7 linked regions of the Homo sapiens genome follow. The protein of the gene in region 1 interacts with the protein of each later gene in a pairwise test. Each region holds a gene or a part of one and is shown in the gene's direction. Other genes may lie near its edges. The genes, in order: OTX2, HIKESHI, TBCEL, RBM47, SNRPA, TNPO2 and IQGAP1.

Evidence for each region.
Region 2: the proteins of OTX2 (region 1) and HIKESHI interact in binary tests that used the Homo sapiens proteins (3 or more experiments, as listed by UniProt).
Region 3: the proteins of OTX2 (region 1) and TBCEL interact in binary tests that used the Homo sapiens proteins (3 or more experiments, as listed by UniProt).
Region 4: the proteins of OTX2 (region 1) and RBM47 interact in binary tests that used the Homo sapiens proteins (3 or more experiments, as listed by UniProt).
Region 5: the proteins of OTX2 (region 1) and SNRPA interact in binary tests that used the Homo sapiens proteins (3 or more experiments, as listed by UniProt).
Region 6: the proteins of OTX2 (region 1) and TNPO2 interact in binary tests that used the Homo sapiens proteins (3 or more experiments, as listed by UniProt).
Region 7: the proteins of OTX2 (region 1) and IQGAP1 interact in binary tests that used the Homo sapiens proteins (3 or more experiments, as listed by UniProt).

What each region holds. Positions count from the first base shown.
Region 1 is NC_000014.9:56,800,480-56,803,979, reverse strand, and holds part of OTX2 (homeobox protein OTX2), read left to right. Parts: intron 1-1,624; coding exon 1,625-2,245; 3' UTR 2,246-3,500. UniProt on the Homo sapiens protein: Transcription factor probably involved in the development of the brain and the sense organs. Can bind to the bicoid/BCD target sequence (BTS): 5'-TCTAATCCC-3'.
Region 2 is NC_000011.10:86,336,740-86,340,239, forward strand, and holds part of HIKESHI (protein Hikeshi), read left to right. Parts: exon of another isoform or gene 1-194; intron 195-639; coding exon 640-791; intron 792-3,500. UniProt on the Homo sapiens protein: Acts as a specific nuclear import carrier for HSP70 proteins following heat-shock stress: acts by mediating the nucleoporin-dependent translocation of ATP-bound HSP70 proteins into the nucleus.
Region 3 is NC_000011.10:121,027,102-121,030,601, forward strand, and holds part of TBCEL (tubulin-specific chaperone cofactor E-like protein), read left to right. Parts: intron 1-3,500. UniProt on the Homo sapiens protein: Acts as a regulator of tubulin stability.
Region 4 is NC_000004.12:40,441,365-40,444,864, reverse strand, and holds part of RBM47 (RNA-binding protein 47), read left to right. Parts: intron 1-3,500. UniProt on the Homo sapiens protein: Single-stranded RNA-binding protein that functions in a variety of RNA processes, including alternative splicing, RNA stabilization, and RNA editing. Functions as an enzyme-substrate adapter for the cytidine deaminase APOBEC1.
Region 5 is NC_000019.10:40,763,546-40,765,889, forward strand, and holds the end of SNRPA (U1 small nuclear ribonucleoprotein A), read left to right. Parts: intron 1-41; coding exon 42-130; intron 131-1,462; coding exon 1,463-1,622; 3' UTR 1,623-1,844; downstream 1,845-2,344. UniProt on the Homo sapiens protein: Component of the spliceosomal U1 snRNP, which is essential for recognition of the pre-mRNA 5' splice-site and the subsequent assembly of the spliceosome. U1 snRNP is the first snRNP to interact with pre-mRNA.
Region 6 is NC_000019.10:12,713,933-12,717,432, reverse strand, and holds part of TNPO2 (transportin-2), read left to right. Parts: intron 1-1,693; coding exon 1,694-1,800; intron 1,801-1,894; coding exon 1,895-2,028; intron 2,029-2,108; coding exon 2,109-2,190; intron 2,191-2,263; coding exon 2,264-2,386; intron 2,387-2,493; coding exon 2,494-2,612; intron 2,613-3,500. UniProt on the Homo sapiens protein: Probably functions in nuclear protein import as nuclear transport receptor. Serves as receptor for nuclear localization signals (NLS) in cargo substrates.
Region 7 is NC_000015.10:90,499,491-90,502,739, forward strand, and holds the end of IQGAP1 (ras GTPase-activating-like protein IQGAP1), read left to right. Parts: intron 1-504; coding exon 505-618; 3' UTR 619-2,749; downstream 2,750-3,249. UniProt on the Homo sapiens protein: Plays a crucial role in regulating the dynamics and assembly of the actin cytoskeleton.

The sequences.
Region 1 (3,500 bases):
GGTTGCTGGTGGAGAGAGACCCATCCTTGAGCAGGTTTCAAGAGTAGTCACGTGGTGTTGTAACCCTTCCCTTCCTCTGTATAGAAATCCTCTCCTATTCTCATGGACTTGTACGTGTGAAAGCAGCTTAGCTCTTGGACAGTCCAAGTATTTTTACAGATGAAAAAATAGAGTAAATGACTTGCTCAAGGTCATAACTAAGTTTGGTGGCAGAGTCAGGGTATAGACGCAGCTGGTGCTTTTACCAAATAAATCAACACAAAAAGAATGTATTTTCCTTGACTTCTTAGGGATTGAAGAGAATTTTCTAGTTCTGAGCCATTTAACAGATAAAATATCTACATAATGTCTCTAGTGACACCCCTCTTGTTTTAGTTCCCCTAAACTTGACCTTAAACTGGAGAGGGAAGGTCAACTCCAGCTTGCCTTGTGAGTGAGCCCTGTACAGAATTCTCTGCAAAGTGTTTAGCACATAAACCACATACACACCTGGGCCTCTCCTTCGGCTAGAATATGTTTATGAAAGCGACAGACATCAGTGTCAGCTGCAAATTGGGAAAGGGGCTTTTTCAAAGTAGGTTAGAGGAAGTTTTAGCACTTGCAAGGCTTGAACCAAAGTCCTCACTAGGAGAAAACAAATGGCTCCAAATGGTTGGTGGTCTTGAGCTTGGCCTTGGTGGCCTCACTTTTACCACAGTTACGGCACCCATACAGAGAGCTCATTCAAAAGTTCAGCTAAGGATTTGTCCTCCAGAAAATGCCAGTAGTTCCTCTTCTAAGCCCCCTCGTACACCAATCATAGCTCCTTCATTGCAGAACATGAACAGGGCTGGTAAAGAGAATTGTCAAGATTGCAGCAGGGGGTTGAAGTGGTAAGTCAGTAAACACAGCACAGGAGACTGAGTCTATGTGCTGAGTGGCACTACTCTAACAACACAGACTCGAGTCCCAGAGACTAGCAGGTCTGTGCTCCAGCTCAAAGCAGAGTGCATGTAAGTCACTCCTTTTACCACAAAGAAGCTTTTAGCAAATAGTGGCTTTCAGACCTCTTTCTTCAACAAGATCATGTCTTCCCCTTGGAGCTTTGTTCTGTGAGTCTTTCTAAGAGAGACAGAAGGGTGATGGAACCAACCAACCTCTATATTAGCAGTTGCTTCCTGGAAGATGAACTGTAAATGAATTTAGGCTGTTCCTGTTAGCCTGTAACAACAGAATTGCTTTCTCTCACTTCTCATGTATTTCCCTCCAAAAGACAGAGATACATTCTATTCCTCTGTGAGAGTGTTCCAAAATATAGCTGGGTCTATGTGTATGTGTGTGTTAGAGGCGAAATAAGATAGGAAAGTGATGTGGAGAGTTTTTAGCTATATGATTTGGGGGATTATCTTAAATGTTATTCTGGGCAAGAAATAAGACAGTGTCAAGTGTTTTTAGACAGAGCCTCCCCAACTTTCTTACAAGTCCAGGAGTTTATATGAGAGTACCACATAATAGGTCTTCAGTGGCAGGGGAAATTGTGTGTTTAGCTGATCTGCCCATGTAGGATAGATTTATAATACGGGAGCCATTCTTGTCCTTAAGGAACTATCAAAACCGAGTTAAAGAATTTTCTTTCCCTTCCAAGGTATGGTTTAAGAATCGAAGAGCTAAGTGCCGCCAACAACAGCAACAACAGCAGAATGGAGGTCAAAACAAAGTGAGACCTGCCAAAAAGAAGACATCTCCAGCTCGGGAAGTGAGTTCAGAGAGTGGAACAAGTGGCCAATTCACTCCCCCCTCTAGCACCTCAGTCCCGACCATTGCCAGCAGCAGTGCTCCTGTGTCTATCTGGAGCCCAGCTTCCATCTCCCCACTGTCAGATCCCTTGTCCACCTCCTCTTCCTGCATGCAGAGGTCCTATCCCATGACCTATACTCAGGCTTCAGGTTATAGTCAAGGATATGCTGGCTCAACTTCCTACTTTGGGGGCATGGACTGTGGATCATATTTGACCCCTATGCATCACCAGCTTCCCGGACCAGGGGCCACACTCAGTCCCATGGGTACCAATGCAGTCACCAGCCATCTCAATCAGTCCCCAGCTTCTCTTTCCACCCAGGGATATGGAGCTTCAAGCTTGGGTTTTAACTCAACCACTGATTGCTTGGATTATAAGGACCAAACTGCCTCCTGGAAGCTTAACTTCAATGCTGACTGCTTGGATTATAAAGATCAGACATCCTCGTGGAAATTCCAGGTTTTGTGAAGACCTGTAGAACCTCTTTTTGTGGGTGATTTTTAAATATACTGGGCTGGACATTCCAGTTTTAGCCAGGCATTGGTTAAAAGAGTTAGATGGGATGATGCTCAGACTCATCTGATCAAAGTTCCGAGAGGCATAGAAGGAAAAACGAAGGGCCTTAGAGGGGCCTACAAACCAGCAACATGAAATGGACAAACCAATCTGCTTAAGATCCTGTCATAGTTTTAGATCATTGGTTATCCTGATTTGCAAAGTGATCAAAAGCATTCTAGCCATGTGCAACCAAACACCACCAAAAATAAAATCAAACAAAACTAAGTTGTGAAGGAAGGGAGGGAAGGTCATAGCCTTCTTAAGCAGAGGTGTTCCATTGTTTTAGCCAATCCTTGGTTGAATCTTAGGAATGAACAGTGTCTCAAGCTCATTCACGTTTCATGACCAACTGGTAGTTGGCACTGAAAAAACTTTTCAGGGCTGTGTGAATTGTGTGACTGATTGTCCTAGATGCACTACTTTATTTAAAAAATAATGTTCATAAGGAGTCAATATGTAGTTTAAGAGACAATCAGTGTGTGTCTTATAAATGGTACATCTGTGGTTTTTAATCTGTGCTAGACTTCAAAACTGTGATCTCCTGTTATTGTATGCAACCTTGAACTCCACCTCTGCAGGGGTTCTTCTGTGATTAAATAGGTTATAATTATAAGCAAAATTCAGAGCAACTGAGTACTGATCTAAAAAGATTACCTTTGGCTGGAGGTGAGCTGCACTGAAACTTTACGACAAAATGTCTCTGGACAAAGAGAGTCAGAGAAGAGAAGCAAAAGGACACTAATTCATCTGTAATTTACTGTTGGTAAGCCTAGCAGTAAAGAGACATTGGTCAATTGCTCTGACCCTGATGAATTATTAAACTGAGATCATTGTCGTTTATGCTTGCAGATGTTAAATGGAAAAGTTATATATGCATAAACCTTTTCTTCCTGGATTTGGCAGATATGTATAATTATATTAAAATGGTTCTAGCACAACATTGGGTCCAGTTTAATTTTACACCGCTATTTATGAATAAGAAGCCTACATTCAGCCTTTCCTCCCCAAAACACGTTTTTCTTAGGACAGAGAGTAAATTAGCAAACTTATTTTTACTTTTTTTTTTTGCTAATCTATGCATAAAATAGATATGAATGACAGTGGTAGGTAGACTTTTTGTGACTTTCATCAGGATTGCTCTGAAATTGAGTTTGGAGAGCCTAAC
Region 2 (3,500 bases), on another chromosome or scaffold:
TCAAGAAACTCCAAGTAGGATAAACTACACCAAGACACACGATAATCAAACTGTCAAAAGGTAAAGAGAGAATGTTGAAAGCATCAAGAGAAGTAACTCATCACATGCAAGGATCCTTGCTAAGATTAATAGCTGATTTCTCATCAGAGACCCCATAGTCTTCTAGACGGTAGTGGATTGGCATATTCAGAGTTCTGAAAGGAAAAAAAAAAAAGCCATCAACCAGGAATTATATACTCAGCAAAACTGTCTTTAGAGATGAAGGAGAAATACTTTCCTAGATAAACAAAAACTAAGTCATTGCTGGCAGACCTGCTCCATAAGGAATGCTAAAGGGAGTCTTCTCTATTAATTATTTATTTTTCCCACACTCTGTTACTGTCTGTGTCTAGTTGCAGTAGTTTCAATACATTTCAGAAATGTGACAGCTATTTTTCTGGTGGGAAACTTTTAGTTCTTTTATTCTTTGTTAATATGCTAAAAACGAAGTAGGCTTTTGCATTTATCTGAAAAGAGGGACAAACTTGGACATAAAACTTTTTCATGTATATAAATTAGAGGTTCTTTATAAATTTACAAAGGAAATTGTGTGACTACAAGTTTAATTTGAAATGTGTGTCATATGTTAATTTCTTGCAGGAGAAGGAAGCCAACATCCTTTTGGAGCCATGAATATTGTCCGAACTCCATCTGTTGCTCAGATTGGAATTTCAGTGGAATTATTAGACAGTATGGCTCAGCAGACTCCTGTAGGTAATGCTGCTGTATCCTCAGTTGACTCATTCACTCAGGTAATGCAACATACATTTCATTCTTTACCTCCCCCTCCACTGCTTTATTAAGGTATAATATACAAGTTAAAATCGTAACTTAGGGTATACAATGTGATGTTTTTGATACATGTTTACATTTTGTTTTGTTTTATTTTGTTTTTGAGAGATGGAGTCTTGCTCTGTTGCCCAGGCTGGAGTGCAGTGGCGCAATCTCGGCTGACTGCAATTTCCGCCTCCCGGGTTCAAGCGATTCTCCTGCCTCAGTCTCCTGAGTAGCTGGGACTACAGGCACATGTCACCACACCCGGCTAAGTTTTGTATTTTTTTTTTAGTAGAGACAGGGTATTGCCATGTTGGCCAGGCTGGTCTCGAACTCCAGACCTCAGGTGATCTTCCTGCCTCGGCCTCCCAAAGTGCTGGGATTACAGGTGTGAGCCACCACACCCAGCCTATATTTTGACATAAAATCAAGCTACTTAACATATCAGTCACCTCACACAGTCATCATTTTTTTGTAGAGAACAGTTAAGATCTGATCTCTTAGCAAATTACAAGTATACATTATTAGTAACTGTATTCTCCATGCTGTACAATAGATTTTCAGAATTTATTCATTCCATTGAACTGAAACTTTGTGCCCTTTGACCAACATGTCCTCATTTTCCCTTCCCCTCCACTCTTCAACCCCTGGCAACCATCATTCTACTGTCTGCTTCTGTAAGTTCAACTTTTAGATTCCACATATAAGTGAGATCAATCATGCTATTTGTCTTTCTGTTCCTGACTTCTTAGCCTATTATCAAGAGGAAAAATTGATGATGTAGGAGAGCAAGGAGAACTGCTAAAGCAGTGTCCTTGAGTAGAAAATAGCAGCATATATGGAGGTGTTCACTTTAGACAGGATAATGGATATATGGGTACAGATTCAGGAGGCTGGTAGATGTGGTGATGAGAACTTGTGCAGGCTGTCTCCTGATTTCTTCTTGCTTAGTGAAATAGAAAGGACGATCATCAGCTAAGATCGAGGTAGTAGAAATTGAAATAAAAAAAGACTACTAAATAAGTCTTCTAGCAGAGGAGGAGTGAATGGATTAGGGAAACCATATGTGTTTGCCTGGCAGTACCAGAGGCGCACTTTTGAAGGTTGTGGTCATGAATGTAAAGGTAGATTTGTCACATCTTTGAAAATGGACTGAATTGAGAATGACAGACTCTGGGTCTCAAAAATGTTTTTTTTCCCATAATTTTACAAATAAGCTGCTGTGCTGAAAACAAACTATAAAATAATCGTAGTATCCTGTGTAGACAATATTTTAAAAGTGTCTGGAAAATACACATTAAAATGTTATCCCTGGAGAAGGGTAAGAAGACTTTTTTACTGTACATGTTTATAAATTATTTGAGTTTTTAAAATAAAACTATAGTTTTAATTAAATGTATTACGAAATATTTTAAATACAGAGAAAATAGAGTAACTTATATTTTCCACAAATAGTTATTATGTAACTACTCTGTACCAGGCATGTCTTTTTTTCTTTTTCTTTTCTCTTTGAGACGGAGTCTCACTCTGTCGCCCAGGCTGGAGTGCAGTGGCGCGATCTCGGCTCACTGCAAGCTCCGCCTCCTGGGTTCACGCCATTCTCCTGCCTCAGCCTCCCAAGTAGCTGGGACTACACGTGCCCGCCACCAGGCCCAGCTAATTTTTTTTGTATTTTTTCGTAGAGATGGGGTTTCGCCGTGTTAGCCACGATGGTCTCGATCTCCTGACCTCGTTATCCGCCTGCCTTGGCCTCCCAAAGTGCTGGGATTTCAGGCGTGAGCCACCGCGCCCAGCCTGTACCAGGCATTTCTAAGCACTCATAGATACAAATAGGTCCACAAAATAGAATAACACCTGTCTTTACAGAGCTCTCTTTATGGTGGGGTATACATTAAGACTTCCATTGTCTTCCCCCTGGATTTAACTGTTATATTTTGTCTTATTTGCCACTAATTTTTAAAAAAGAAATTAAGGCATTATAGATATAGCCCACTGCTGCCTGCTTCTCTTCCTGCCTTTTACCTTCTAACTTTTTATATCTTTCCTATTCATATTTTAGTACTTAAAAAAATTCCTGTGTATCCACAAAATATGTATAGTACTATCTGTATCTGTTTAAACATGTTTCTAATTTAATTACTTAGTTACTCCAAATTTTTATGAGTATTACATGTATTTGGTTTAAATAGTCAAATAGTTTTTTTTTATTATACTTTAAGTTCTAGGGTACATGTGCAAAACGTGCAGGTTTGTTACATATGTATATATGTGCCATGTTGGTGTGCTGCACCTATTAACTCGTCATTTACATTAGGTATTTCTCCTAATGCTATCCTTCCCCCTGCCCCCCACCCCAAGACAGACCCGCCCGCCGTGTGTGATGTTCCCTGCCCTGTATCCAGGTGTTCTCATTGTTCAATTCCCACCTATGAGTGAGGACATGCGGTGTTTGGTTTTCTGTCCTTGTGATAGTTTGCTCAGAATGATGGTTTCCAGCTTCATCCATGTCCCTGCAAAGGACTTGAACTCACCCTTTTTTATAGCTGCATAGTATTCCATGGTGTATATGTGCCACATTTTCTTAATCCAGTCTATCATTGGTGGACATTTGGGTTGGTTCCAAGTTTTTGCTATTGTGAATAGTGCCGCAGTAAACATATGTGTGCATGTGTCTTTATAGCAGCATG
Region 3 (3,500 bases), on another chromosome or scaffold:
AGAGACCAGTTTACTTAGTCCTGGGCTGTGTTTTAAATAAGTGAACTCTTTATATATTTTGGGCCTGGTTAGCTGTATAAGAAGTAATGTGAAACTGATAGTGATACAATTTGGGCTTAAAGGGTGAAGGAATCCTTATTTGCGATTGTTGCCTTTCTCCTACACGTGATTAGTTATTGAGATTTACTATTCCTCCCTTTTTCATGCTACCCATTCTGACTTACTTCTTTGGAATTAGAATGGTAATAACTGGACTGTTCCCATTGTCTTTTGCTTGCATAGCTTCATGAGAGAACTCTTCCAAAGGATATTGCTATGATTATTTCATTTCCCTCCTCAAAAACCATTAGCTGCTTTCCAGTACAGGCACTGAATAAAGCCCATGGTGTTTAGCTTGATATTTAGGGCCTTCTACAGACTTCCTCTACTTTTTTTCTGGCATCATCATTACACTCCTAAATGCAGTTCCTCTACCTGCCAAGGCCTCTGCTCATGTACCTTCCTTTGTGTGTAAAATTATCCCTGAAAGTCTGCATATAAAATGTTCCCTTTCTTCATGAAATCCTACTCACTCTCATTTCATTTCAGATGACCCCTCTTCTTTGAAGTCTTTGTTGCTTATGTTGTCTGTACTGCCTTTGCTATATTGCTTTGTATTATTTGTGCACCTTATTTTTATCCCTTTTAGATTATAAATGCGTGGTGAACAGGAGGCTCAAATATCCATGAAAAACTAGGACATCTAGCACAGGGTCTACCAGGGCGTAGTTCATAGACCAAGTAGATCAGAATTGACTGAACGTATGGTTAAAAATGCAGATCCGGCAAGGCATTGTGGCTCACACCTGTAATCCCAGCACTTTGGGAGGCCGAGGTAGGAGGATCGCTTGAATCCAGGAGTCAAAGCCAACCTGGGCAACGTAGGGAGACCCATCTCTATGAAAAATTAAAAAATTAGCCAGGCATAGTGGTATATGCCTGTAGTCCCAGCTACTTGAGAGGCTGAGGCCAGAGGATCACGAGCCTCAGAGGTTGAGGCTTCAGTGAGCTATGATTACACCATTGCACTCCAGCCTGGGCAAGAAGAGTGAGGCACTGTTTAAAAAAATAAATAAATAAATAAAATAAAATAAAATAAAGCAGATCCCTGAATTCTGACCTAGACTTACTGAATCAGAATCTCTGGTGGAATCTAGGAATCTGCATTTTATCAAGCTGTCTGGATGATTCTTCCATACAGTAAAAGTTAAAAGTCACTGACCTAGCCTGATGCTTTAAATTACAGTAGGTACTCAAATAACTTTTCAGCAAGTGATGTTAATGAACTGAGCAATATCATAATTCAGCAAACTGGTTTAATTTTAGGGCCTTGAAGTCAGCCTAGATTTGAGTCCTGGCTCTGTCACTAGCTCTGGGCCCGTAACCTCTCTGCTTCAGTTTTCTGATCTGCAAAATGGGATAATAGTACCCCTTATAAAAGTGTTGTGATAACTAAGTGAGATAATACATATAAAACAACACAGTACACAACACATAATAAACTTACAATAGATTTTATCTGCTGTCATGATGATGCCTAGCACAACAGTGGTCACCGCAGTAATAATAAAACATCATGAAGAGAGGTTCCAGATCAGTCATTGTTAACAAACAAATTGCTCATATGGTTTTAAGAACTAAGGCTTAAAATATTTTCTATTTTACATTAACAGATTGTGGCCCTATGTGGTGTTTAAAGTCATAAAGGTGTTTCCGCCTTCTTTAGAAGAATTGGTATCAAATTAGCATGTTAGGATTTTTCCCCTTCATCTCCCCACTGATGGAAGAATAAAGTGCAAACTTTTGAATGGTGGACCTTAGCCCCTTACCATCTGGCCCTACCAATTCTTTATTTTCTAGCCGTCTTCCCACATATACTCTATACTCTACACCAACTACACTACATTTCTCACTTTATTTTGCATTTCTCACTCATTTGTGTTTGTGCAGATGCTTTCCCCTTCTTTTCATCTAGTACATTTCTGCTGCTGTCTTGTAAAACTCAGTTTTACATGTGACTGACCTCCTTAGTGAAGACAGTCACTCCCTCAGTGTTCTCAAAGTCCTTTGTCCATGCTTCTTATATATTACCTTTGTGTACATTTGTCTTTTTGGAGGGAAAAACGATTTAATCCTGGCATGTATTCCCACCTCTGCCAAAAGGGGAGGATGTTTGTTTATTTGACTCATATCAGCTCCTCCATTTGTCTGGACGTCTCAGCTTTCACAATAATAACTAGTTTATTGACCACTTACTTCATGCCAGGTACTTAACTAGATGCTTCAAAAACTTTATTTCATGTAGTCTTCACAATAACTGTGAAATGGCTATTAATAGCTTCATTTTACAAGTGAGGAAGCAGGCATAGAGATAGGTAAGTAACTTGTTCAAATTACACAGTAGTCATAAGTGAACTCAGAACTAACTGAAGACCATGCTTTTAATCACAGTGCTCTTCTAAAAATGAAATTTAAACAGGTAGCCCATTTCCCAAATTCAGGATCTTAAAACTGTGTGAAACTTTGATTAATCACTAATCATTCTTAGGAATGTGATCCATAACAAGTACTATTGTGAAAAGTTATTTAAAACTGTTCTTGGAATAATGCGTTTCCGGTGATTTTCAAAATTTTTCTTCTCATTCTGCCATTGGTGAGCTTCATTTTCATTTCACTGTCAGAAGGTGTTGCTTCATGTCTATTGATAATGAAATTCACTTTTCCATTTATCCAATGAATATTTTTTAATCATATGCCAGGCACTGCTCTGCACAAAACTGAACTGGACTGACAAATCCCTGCTTGTGTGGGACCTATCTTCTGCTGGAGAACAAACACTGAACTAACGGATTATGATAAGTGCTATAAAGAATGACAGAGGGTGAAGTGACTATGAGTGATGGTGGCAGTAGTGCTATTTTTGATGGGGTGGTCAGAAGCAGCCTCTTTGAGAGGGTGACATTTGTGTTTAAATTTGAGACTTAAACACTGAGATGAAGCAGCTCTGCCAAGAGACAGGAAAAGGGCAATCCTGCAAATGCAAAGGCTGTAGGGGGAAATCAGCTTGGCAAGTCTGAGAAATAGAAAACCACGGAGGCTGAGTAGTGGGCCAGGAAAGGAGTGGGAGGAAATGAGGTTAGAGATGTAAGCAGTGATCAGATTAAATGAATCCTTGGCGACCATGATGAAGAGATTGGATTTTATTCTGCATGTGAAGGGGAGCCATTGGAGAGTGTAAAGGACATGATTTGACTTAAATTTTGAAAAGATCACTTGGCTGCTTTGTGGAGAATGATTTGTATAAGAGTCAAGAGGGACCAGGGCGGAGGCTAATGCAGAGGTCCTGGTGAGAAGTTGATGATGGCTTGAACAAGAATAAAGTAATAGAGATGGACAAAATTGGGCAAAATTGGGATATTTTGGATGTGGTATTGATAGGTCTTGCTGATTAGTTACACAGG
Region 4 (3,500 bases), on another chromosome or scaffold:
GGTGAAACCCCATCTCTACTAAAAATACAAAAATTAACCGGACATGATGGTACGCACCTGTAATACCAGCTACTCAGGAGGCTGAGGCAGATAAATCGCTTGAATCCTGGAGGTGGAGATTGCAGTGAGCCAAGATCATACCACTGCACTCCAGCCTGGATGACAGAGTGAGACTCCATCTAAAAAAAAAAAAAACAGTTAGAATTTAAAAATTAGTCCTGAAATTAAGTTATCATTCAGCATAGGAAAACTATTATACGTAGCAAGCAGAATCTAAGAGCTTCAAGGATGCGCTCTTCCACATCTCCTAGACCAGGGGTCAACAGAGCCGGAGAGTAAATACCTTAGGCTTTATGAGCCACACTGTCTGGGTCTCAACTATTTCGCTTTGCCATTGTAGTATAAAAGCAGCCACACATTATCTTTTCTTTTTTTTTTTTTTAAGGATAGGGTTGTGTTCCAATACAATTTTATTTATAGAAACAAACAGCAGGCCATATTTGGCCCACAGCCATAGCTTGCCAATGCTAATCTAAAGCACATATAATTACAATAAGTTAAGCATTTCATTACATCTTTGAGAGAAGGGTCATGTTAGCTGTACAGTTGTCTTTTTCAAAGTAACTTGAAAATCTTTTCCTTTTCGTTATTGTTGTTGTTGTTTTTGAGACAGGTTCTCACTCTGTTGCCTAGGCTGGAGTGCAGTGGCGCAGTCACAGCTCACTGCAGCCTCAACTTCCTGAGCTCAGGTGATCCTTCCACCTCAGCCTCCCAAATAGCTGGGACTACAGGCACACACCACCATGCCCGGCTAATTTTTGTACTTTTTGTAGAGATGGGGTTTTGCCATGTTGCCCAGGCTGGTCTCGTGCTCCTGAGCTTAAGCAATCTACCTGCCTCAGCCGCCCAAAGTGCCAGAATTACAGGCGTGAGCCACTGAGCCCAGCCTCATTTATCTTTTAATATATCTAAGTGTTTGGCATCTGAATTCATTGAGTAGAGTAGCACACCATATAATTTATTTAATATGGTATATTAAACATGATGATAAGGAGAATAAAACTTGTAGGCCATAAGATTTTCTTGAATGTGTTAACCTGAGTCAGTGTACCTTTTTTTTTTTTTTTTTTTTTTTTTTTTTTTTTTTGAGAAGGAGTTTCACTCTTGTTGCCCAGGCTAGAGTGCAATGGCGCCATCTCAGCACACCACAACTTCCGCCTCCCAGGTTCAAGGGATTCTCCTGCCTTAGCATCCTGAGTAGCTGAGATTACAGGCATGTGCCACCACGCCCAGCTAATTTTGTATTTTTATTAGAGATGGGGTTTCTCCATGTTGGTCAGGCTGGTCTCGAACTCCCAACCTCAGGTGATCCGCCCACCTTAGCCTCCCAAAGTGCTGGGATTACAGGTGTAAGCCACTGTGCCCAGCCCAGTGTATCATTTTTTAATGGCCTCTAATGAAATCCTAGTTTTATCAACTCTAATTTTTGTCTTTTTTGCATCTCTGAACCTTTTCTTTTTTTTAAAGGATTTTGTTTTTACTGTGGTATATTATACATAACATTTTACCATTTTTAAGTGTATGGTTCATTGGCAGGAAGTATATTCACACTGTTGTGCTGCCATCACCACCATCCATCTCCAGACCTTTATTATCCCTAATTAAGACACCCACACCCATGAAGCACTAATTCCCCACTCCTCCCTTTCTCCAGCCCATGGTAACCACTAGTCTACTTTCTGTCTATGAATTTGACTACTCTAGGTACCTTATATAAGTGGAATCATATAATATTTATCCCTTTGTGTCTGGCTTATTTCACTATTAGCATAATGTCTTCAAGGTTCTTCCATATTGTAGCACGTATCAGAATTTTATTCAAGGCTGAATAAGCCGGGCACGGTGGCTCACACGTGTAATCCCAGTATTTTGGGAGACCGAGGCGGGCAGAGCACCTGAGGTCAGGAGTTCAAGACCAGCCTGGCCAACATGGTGAAACCCCACCTGTACTAAAAATACAAAAATTAGCTGGGCGTGGTGGTGTGCGCCTGTAGTCCCAGTTACTTGGGAGGCTGAGGTGAATTGTTTGAACCTGAGAGGTGGAGGTTGCAGTGAGCAGAGACTGCACCACTGCACGCCAGCCTGGGTGACAGAGTGAGACTCTGTCTAAAAAAAAAGCAAAAGAAAAAAGGCTGAATAATACTGCATTGTATATGTATACCACGTTCTGTTTATCATAATCCATTGATCAACATTTGGGTTGCTTCCATCTTTTGGCAACTGTAAATACTGTTGCTGTGAACATCATTATACAAGTATCTATTTGAGTCTTTTGGGTATATACCTAGAAGTGGAATTGCTGGATCAAATGGTAATTCTATGTTTAATTTTTTGAGGAACCACCATACTGTTTTTTACAGCGGCTGTACCATTTTATATTCCTACCAGCACTGCATGAGGGTTTCAATTTCTCCACGTCCTTGCCAATGCTTATTTCCTGTTTTTTGTTGTTTTTATAATAACTATCCTAATGAGTGTGAAGTAGTATCTCATTGTGGTTCTCACTTGTTGGTATGCAATACTTGTAGTTGGTGTAAGAGACACAGCAAATTTGGATATTGCATTAATCAATGTCTGGCTGTAATTAGATATATATGCATGTATGTATGCATTGATTCGTCTCCTCCAAAATTACAACATGGTTTATAAGAACATGTGAACAATAAGATAAATAATACAAACAGCTCAATTCATGTCACTGGGAAAACTGAAAAAATAGAAGAAAACTAAAAAATGAAACTATAACCCAAATTAGATGAACATGAAAGTGTGTTGTAATGTCCCCTACAGTTACTAAAATTGGAGTGAAAAAAATCAATCGTGAACTTCCTAGAGGCCAAAGTAAAAATAAAAACAGGGTCGCTAACATGGTTTGTTTATTACAGAAGATGATAGCATAGGTGAAGAAAGGCTTTTCTTGGCTCATTGATGTAAGAAATAAGCTATCGCTATTTTAAAATATGTAGAGATAATTGTGTTACTGACACCAGCAGATTTCAGACTGAAAGCAAACAGGATTTTTTCTTATATTATTGGGGTTGGAATTGGCAATGACTCCGTAGCCTGACTACTGTAAGACTGTTTTTGTAGGTAGAATAGTAGTTTCAAAGCACAGTTAGGGTGACAGGAAGGCAACTCCACCTATCTCAGCAGAGAGATAAGTTCTATTCCCTTGGACTTTAGTCAGTTAATGTTGTATACAGTACAACAGGTAAGATCTTGAATTGTCTCCTATGTATTTATATATGTACCTGGCATTTCCTGCCTAGGTCACAGATTGTAACTACATGGGTGTTTATGCAAATAGTCCTCTTAAAAATATATCCTTATCTTCCATTTGGAAGAAGGGAAAGGTCTTCATGTTCAGATTTAATGTTGAAATTTCTTGGTTGGGTGTGGTGGCTCATGCCTGTAATCCTAGCACTTTGGGAGGCTGAGGC
Region 5 (2,344 bases), on another chromosome or scaffold:
TCAGGGCTCTTGTGCTCACCGACTCCCCTATACCCCCGCAGCTTTCTGAGAATCCACCGAATCACATCTTGTTCCTCACCAACCTGCCAGAGGAGACCAACGAGCTCATGCTGTCCATGCTTTTCAATCAGTAAGTGGGGCCTGTGGCTGGGTGGTCCCTGGAGGGTGATGGCCAGGAGGCATCTCCATGGAAACAGGCCTCAGAACTCTGCCAGCAGAGCTCTGAGCCAAGTAGGGCTTTGCAGAAGGGACAGCGACCAAAGATGTGAAAGGAGGAGGCTGTGGCTGGGCCCACGGCCTGTGGGGGACATGGGGGTGAGGCTGGAAAGGTCTCCATGGCCAGGGCTTGCCGGCTTTTTTCAGCCTTGTTTGAGGGCTGAGGGAGTCCAGGCTCTGGGCCTCATTTTCCCAGCCCCTAAAATGGGGGCATGCAAGGCAAGGTATGTGTAAAACTGCATTGAGATGTCCTTGAACATTGGCTAAGACTGGCAGAAGTCAGCGTGCTCAGAAACAGCAAGTGTGGGAGATGGGGATGCGTGAAACTCTTGTGCCTGGCGTCAGGGTGGAGGCCGGTGCAGCCGATGTGTAGAGGGGCTGTTCACCATTGTTGAGTGAAGTCGTGGGTGTGGGTGAGTTCATCTGGTGGTTCTGTTTCAGGGGCTGTGAGTGGGGCATTCGTCAGTGTTTGTGGTGGGGAGTTGGAGGGTGTCTGGGAGAAGGGATGGCTACATGCAGCATCTCACCATGCTGCACTGCGTGGCACTTAGAAGAACAGAAAGCGCAACTTTATAATAGTGCCGAGAGAAGATTGTGAGAACCTGAAAAATACAGAAAAACAATACCACATGTGCAGCCTGTCCACAAAGCTGTATATTTTGTGAGAATGCCGATGGAAAAAAGGATACCTAGTAAACATGAGGATGGCTGCTTAATGGAGAAAGAAGTATGGAATGAGAAGAGGGAAATTAGAGAAACAGCATATCAGAAAAGTGAGGGTAAGGCCGGGTGCGGTGGCTCACGCCTAAAATCCCAGTATGTTGGGAGGCTGAGGCAGGTGGATCACTTGAGGTCAGGAGTTCGAGGCCAATGTGGGCAACTTGGTGAAACCCCTTCTCTCCTAAAAATACAAGAATAAAAATGGAAAAAGTGAGGGTATTGGTTATTTTTTTGGTGTGGCGGGTGGGTTATGATTTAGGAAGGGCCCAGGAGACTGCGGTGTACTGTTTCTTGATTTAGGTTGCAGTTGCATGGGTGTTTGTGTTTAAATTTTTCATTAAATGCTATGTTTACATTAGAGTTTTTCAACTTAGTACTATCTGCATTTTGGGCTGGATAATTCTGAGTAATGGGGCCCTGCCCTGTGCATTGGAGGCTATTTGGCATCATTTCTGGCCTCTGTCCACTTGATGCCGTTACGTTAGGGGGAAATGCTGAGTCCCTGAGGTCTGTCGTTCTCTTTCAGGTTCCCTGGCTTCAAGGAGGTCCGTCTGGTACCCGGGCGGCATGACATCGCCTTCGTGGAGTTTGACAATGAGGTACAGGCAGGGGCAGCTCGCGATGCCCTGCAGGGCTTTAAGATCACGCAGAACAACGCCATGAAGATCTCCTTTGCCAAGAAGTAGCACCTTTTCCCCCCATGCCTGCCCCTTCCCCTGTTCTGGGGCCACCCCTTTCCCCCTTGGCTCAGCCCCCTGAAGGTAAGTCCCCCCTTGGGGGCCTTCTTGGAGCCGTGTGTGAGTGAGTGGTCGCCACACAGCATTGTACCCAGAGTCTGTCCCCAGACATTGCACCTGGCGCTGTTAGGCCGGAATTAAAGTGGCTTTTTGAGGTTTGGTTTTTCACAATCATTTGTCTGTCTGATTTTCTTGCTCTTCATGGTTCCTTTCCCTCCACCTCAGCAGCACATCCTGGGTTTTTGGACCTCTTGGCATTTTGAGGTTTGCAACCTTGGGGAAACATAGGATAGTGTAGTAATATTGTTCAAACTCAGGTTACAATGACTACTTTGGCAGTTTTGTATGTTGTCCCAATTCACAGCAGGAAATGGAATCCTGGGTCAGGAAATGGAAAGTCAGGGCTGCCGCGTACAGTTAGGCAGGATGGGTACTGCACAAGAATGGCACCTTTTAAGGGCACACCATTCACTTTGTAGGCTTACAAGTTTATGCCACCACTTTTCTAACAGATGACAAGAGTGTTCAGGGAGAGGTGTTTCTTCACCTTTTTTTTACTCTTCTCAAAAGTGCAGCCTGTTGTAGCAATGGCCCCAGAGAAACCACAGTAGGTAGTTCAAACAGAAAGGAATTTAATACAGGAAACTTGGTGCTGCTGAAATCATGGGGCG
Region 6 (3,500 bases), on another chromosome or scaffold:
GAGTGTGGCAGCGGGCACCTGTAATCCCAGCTGCTTCAGAGGCTGAGGCAGGGGAATTACCTGAACTCGGGAGGTGGAGGTTGCAGTGAGCCAAGATTGTGCCACTGCACTCCAGCCTGGACTACAGAGTGAGACTCCATCTCAAAAAAAAAAAAAAAAAAAAAGAGAGAAAAAGAAACCTACTGATAACCTTAGTTAGGAGGCTGGTTTTCTTTATCTCTTCTGAGGGCTGGAAGCACTGAGGCACACAGAATGAGGGGGTGTGGCTAAAGTTCCACAATCCTCACTGTGTACCTACCCATTGCAGGGAGCACCTTTCTCTCGTTGAGTTTCCACCCTTGGGAAACACTGCCATCTCATGGCAGCAAATACCATCTCTGCACTTAACAGAACCCATATCCAGCTCTGTCACCAGATATGTGCACTGTCCTGGCACCTCAGATGCCTGCTGTATGTAACTCCTGGATATCTAATAGGCAGTACAAGCATCCCTGCCACCTTCCTGCCCTTACCTCCTTTCCCTCTCTCATCATGCCTGTCCTTACGCCAGGCCTTTGCACCATAGAGTCCCCTGCCTCAGATGCCCTTTCCCCAGAAACCTGGATGATTCCTCCCTCGCCTCCTTCACCTCCTTCAGGCCTTGGCTCAGATATCAAGATGTCACCTCAACGAGGCCTGCTCTGGCCACCCAATTTAAAGTTGCTACCTTCACCTACAGCCCTTTCTCACCATCTTTTCTGCTGTATTTCCCCCCTTAGTCCTTGGCATGTGGCCCCTCCCAGTTGTTTGTTTTTGTTTTGTTTGTTTTTGAAATGGAGTCTTGCTCCATCCCAGGCTGGAGTGCTGTGGCGCGATCTCTGCTCACTGCAACCTCTGCCTCCCAGGTTCAAGTGATTCTCCTGCCTCGGCCTCCCAAGTAGCTGGGATTACTGGTGCCCCCCACCACACCCAGCTAATTTTTGTATTTTTAGTAGAGATGGGGTTTCACCATGTTGGCCAGGCTGGTTTCGAACTCCTGACCTCAAGTGATCCACCCACCTCGGTCCCCCAAAGTGCTGGGATTACAGGCATGAGCCACCCATGCACGGCCCCTCCCAGTTTTTTTTGCTAATTTATCTTTACTTCATAGCTTGCTTCCAGCTCCCAAGGGTGAGGATTTTGTGTTTTGCTCTGTGCTGTGCCTCAGGGCCTGGAACAGAGTTGACTCACAGTAAGGCTCAGGGTGCCTACTGAGTCAAGGAGTACCCTTCTACCTATGTCAAGGCCAGGAGCGGTGGCTCACGCCTGTAATCTCAGTGCTTTTGGAGGCCAAGGCAGGAGGATTGCTTGAGGCCAGGAGTTTTAGGCCAGCCTGGGCAACATAGTGAGATCCCATCTCTACAAACAATTTTAAAAATTAGTTGGGCGTGGTGGCATGTGCCTGCAGTCCCAGCTACTTAGGAGGCTGAGGCAGGAAGATGGCTTGAGGCCAGGAGTTTGAGGCTGCTGTGGACTATTGATTGTGCCACAGCAGTCCAGCCTGGGCAACAGAGCTAATTCTATCTCTTACAAAGAAAAAAAAAAGGAGGGGGGATGTAGAGGGCGTACATGGGCTAGGGAACAGAAAGGCAGCACTGGGGGTGTCCAGTGGGAGGGGGAGGTGCTAGGCAGCCCCTGCCCAGCCTCAGGCAGCGTCCTTTCCCGGCCGCCCCAGGCATTCTCATCACCACCATCGCTTCCAAGGGTGAGCTGCAGATGTGGCCCGAGCTGCTGCCCCAGCTCTGCAACCTGCTTAACTCGGAGGATTACAACACTTGTGAGGTAGGCAAGAAGCCATGGATGGCCAGAGCGAGTACTGGGGGGCTGGGACCACCACCCACCACCCACGTTTGTCTCTCTGCCCCTCTGCACTCAGGGAGCCTTTGGAGCCCTGCAGAAGATCTGTGAAGACTCATCAGAGCTTCTGGACAGTGACGCCCTCAACAGGCCCCTCAACATCATGATCCCCAAGTTCCTGCAGTTCTTCAAGCACTGCAGTCCCAAGATCCGGTGGGTGCAGCTCCCTGGGGGCTTCCAGGGAGCCTGGAGTGGGCAGGGTCAGGGTGACCCACGTGTCTGCTCCCCGCCAGGTCCCACGCCATCGCCTGCGTGAACCAGTTCATCATGGACCGGGCCCAGGCGCTGATGGACAATATTGACACCTTCATCGAGGTGGGCCGCTGGGCTGGGGGTGGGCAGGGCGAGGACTGAGGGCCCCTACAACTGACCCTGTTCCTCCCTGCAGCACCTATTTGCCCTGGCTGTGGATGATGACCCCGAGGTGCGGAAGAATGTGTGCCGTGCCCTGGTGATGCTTCTGGAAGTGCGGATTGACAGGCTCATCCCCCACATGCACAGCATCATCCAGGTGTGCATGGTCAAGGCCAGCCCAGGCGGGCAGGCAGGGGGCCGGTGGCAGGGGTCAGGGAGCCACCCCCAGCCAGGCCAGGCCTCAGCTTCTCCCCCCTACCACAGTACATGCTGCAGAGGACCCAGGACCATGATGAGAACGTTGCCCTTGAGGCCTGTGAGTTCTGGCTGACGCTGGCCGAGCAGCCCATCTGCAAGGAAGTCCTGGCCTCCCATCTGGTCCAGTGAGTGCTGCTGCTGCCCACTGTCCTACCCCAGCTTCGACCCCTTGCTATGCCTCTGCCTTCCCTTCTGGTCACCTGCTGTGCTTCTCTCAGTCCACATCCTTGTCAGTTTACATTCAGTATATATTTATGTGTAAGTGGTAAGAATGCCACTTTTTGAAGACTTCAAAATTAGGTAACTGATAGGTGGAAAGAAATGAAAAATCAATGGCCACATGTGGTGGCTGACACCTGTAATCCTAGCACTTTGGGAGGCCGAGGCGGGCAGATCACAAGGTCAGAAGATCGAGACCAGCCTGGCTAACACGGTGAAACCCCATTTCTACTAAAAATATAAAAAAATAGCTGGGCGTGGTGGCAGGCGCCTGTAGTCCCAGCTGCTTGGGAGGGTGAGGCAGGAGAATTGCTTGAACCCAGGAGGCTGAGGTTGTAGTGAGCCAAGGTCGTGCCACTGCACTCCAGCCTGGGTGACAGAGCAAAACTCCGTCTCAAAAAAAAAAAAAAAAGAAATGAAAAATCAACAAAGGCTTCAGGGGTATGGCTGTATCCAGGAGCTCAAAGGATGTGAAAGGCATCTTTGTGGTCTCAGATCTGCTTCCCTTGTGTTGGCTTCATTCTTAGGCACAACCTTCCCTCTGGGTAGTGCTGTAGCCTTCTGTGCCCTTCCAGCTTAGGAACTTCAGAGTAAAGAAATTTTCGACCAGTGTTTCCAACAAAAGTCCTAAAACTGACCCTCCTTGACAAACTTGGATTGCTTGCCTCTCTCCAAATCATTTTTTTCTTTTTTATTTTGAGACAAGGTTTTGCTCTGTCATCCACGCTGGAGTGGAGTGTCAAAATCATGGCTCACTGCAGCCTTGACCTCCCAGCTGAAGCAATCCTCCTACC
Region 7 (3,249 bases), on another chromosome or scaffold:
AATAGAAATTAAGAATCTATCAGATAGTATTAAGGTGACATTACTAGCCTTATCTCATTTCCCCGTGCTTAGTATATTTCATCATAGGTTTAAATGCTTCACCTTTTCCAGATTTATTAAAACTAGTGACCCATAACATGGATGAAATGGGAAAATGTCATTGTGACTTCTGAAATAAAAAGCTTAGATGTGTGTGGCAATTGAACATGTTTCTTTTTCTTTCCATGTATGATGAATTTTGATATGAACAACATGACTTCCTAACTCCAAATCAACCAGAAGCCTCCCTTGGCCAATGTGCCCTATTGCTCCAGCTCTCAGGCTGGTTGTGCAGTGGGTAGTTGCCTAGCGTGGAACTTTTCTTTCGCCCCAGTTCACATCTGGCACACAAGGCAGGCCTCAGTCCATCTGGATCCCTCCCTACATTGTGTCCTTTTTCCTTGTTCCACAGACTTGATTAACTGTCAAAATGTTTTGTTTTGTTTTGTTTTGTTTTGTTAATAGGACCTGCTGCAGCTACAGTATGAAGGAGTTGCAGTCATGAAATTATTTGATAGAGCTAAAGTAAATGTCAACCTCCTGATCTTCCTTCTCAACAAAAAGTTCTACGGGAAGTAATTGATCGTTTGCTGCCAGCCCAGAAGGATGAAGGAAAGAAGCACCTCACAGCTCCTTTCTAGGTCCTTCTTTCCTCATTGGAAGCAAAGACCTAGCCAACAACAGCACCTCAATCTGATACACTCCCGATGCCACATTTTTAACTCCTCTCGCTCTGATGGGACATTTGTTACCCTTTTTTCATAGTGAAATTGTGTTTCAGGCTTAGTCTGACCTTTCTGGTTTCTTCATTTTCTTCCATTACTTAGGAAAGAGTGGAAACTCCACTAAAATTTCTCTGTGTTGTTACAGTCTTAGAGGTTGCAGTACTATATTGTAAGCTTTGGTGTTTGTTTAATTAGCAATAGGGATGGTAGGATTCAAATGTGTGTCATTTAGAAGTGGAAGCTATTAGCACCAATGACATAAATACATACAAGACACACAACTAAAATGTCATGTTATTAACAGTTATTAGGTTGTCATTTAAAAATAAAGTTCCTTTATATTTCTGTCCCATCAGGAAAACTGAAGGATATGGGGAATCATTGGTTATCTTCCATTGTGTTTTTCTTTATGGACAGGAGCTAATGGAAGTGACAGTCATGTTCAAAGGAAGCATTTCTAGAAAAAAGGAGATAATGTTTTTAAATTTCATTATCAAACTTGGGCAATTCTGTTTGTGTAACTCCCCGACTAGTGGATGGGAGAGTCCCATTGCTAAAATTCAGCTACTCAGATAAATTCAGAATGGGTCAAGGCACCTGCCTGTTTTTGTTGGTGCACAGAGATTGACTTGATTCAGAGAGACAATTCACTCCATCCCTATGGCAGAGGAATGGGTTAGCCCTAATGTAGAATGTCATTGTTTTTAAAACTGTTTTATATCTTAAGAGTGCCTTATTAAAGTATAGATGTATGTCTTAAAATGTGGGTGATAGGAATTTTAAAGATTTATATAATGCATCAAAAGCCTTAGAATAAGAAAAGCTTTTTTTAAATTGCTTTATCTGTATATCTGAACTCTTGAAACTTATAGCTAAAACACTAGGATTTATCTGCAGTGTTCAGGGAGATAATTCTGCCTTTAATTGTCTAAAACAAAAACAAAACCAGCCAACCTATGTTACACGTGAGATTAAAACCAATTTTTTCCCCATTTTTTCTCCTTTTTTCTCTTGCTGCCCACATTGTGCCTTTATTTTATGAGCCCCAGTTTTCTGGGCTTAGTTTAAAAAAAAAATCAAGTCTAAACATTGCATTTAGAAAGCTTTTGTTCTTGGATAAAAAGTCATACACTTTAAAAAAAAAAAAAACTTTTTCCAGGAAAATATATTGAAATCATGCTGCTGAGCCTCTATTTTCTTTCTTTGATGTTTTGATTCAGTATTCTTTTATCATAAATTTTTAGCATTTAAAAATTCACTGATGTACATTAAGCCAATAAACTGCTTTAATGAATAACAAACTATGTAGTGTGTCCCTATTATAAATGCATTGGAGAAGTATTTTTATGAGACTCTTTACTCAGGTGCATGGTTACAGCCCACAGGGAGGCATGGAGTGCCATGGAAGGATTCGCCACTACCCAGACCTTGTTTTTTGTTGTATTTTGGAAGACAGGTTTTTTAAAGAAACATTTTCCTCAGATTAAAAGATGATGCTATTACAACTAGCATTGCCTCAAAAACTGGGACCAACCAAAGTGTGTCAACCCTGTTTCCTTAAAAGAGGCTATGAATCCCAAAGGCCACATCCAAGACAGGCAATAATGAGCAGAGTTTACAGCTCCTTTAATAAAATGTGTCAGTAATTTTAAGGTTTATAGTTCCCTCAACACAATTGCTAATGCAGAATAGTGTAAAATGCGCTTCAAGAATGTTGATGATGATGATATAGAATTGTGGCTTTAGTAGCACAGAGGATGCCCCAACAAACTCATGGCGTTGAAACCACACAGTTCTCATTACTGTTATTTATTAGCTGTAGCATTCTCTGTCTCCTCTCTCTCCTCCTTTGACCTTCTCCTCGACCAGCCATCATGACATTTACCATGAATTTACTTCCTCCCAAGAGTTTGGACTGCCCGTCAGATTGTTGCTGCACATAGTTGCCTTTGTATCTCTGTATGAAATAAAAGGTCATTTGTTCATGTTTGTGTTTTTCTCAGTTTCATTGTTAACAGTTCCTGCTAAACACCTTGACTAGAGTGAGATGTATCAGTTAAAATCACAACAGCAGACAACCCCTTCCTTTTAAAGGAGAAAACGTAAGTCCACCATCAGATCATTGAATGTCTCAAAGTGACTTTTAATGTGTGAACGTGTGACTTTAGCCTTTTTAATGAATATGCTTAAGTTATCTTCACCATAAAAAGAAGGGTGTTGCGGGAAGCAAACATTATATGTCACTTAATTCTGATTGACGAACGGTGGAAAGTTTAAAATTGCAACAGCATTTAACCTTTTTTGACCAGCATACTGTTGTTGAGCACATAGACTGTGCCCCTTAGGGGGTTCCTATGTCACTTGGAAGTCACCAGAAAAGACTAGGGGATGTTGAATGTGGAAAAAGTAAATCACAGCAGTAAAAAAAGAAGAAAAGGGGCTGGCGTAGTGGCTCACACCTGTAATCCCAACACTTTAGGAGGCC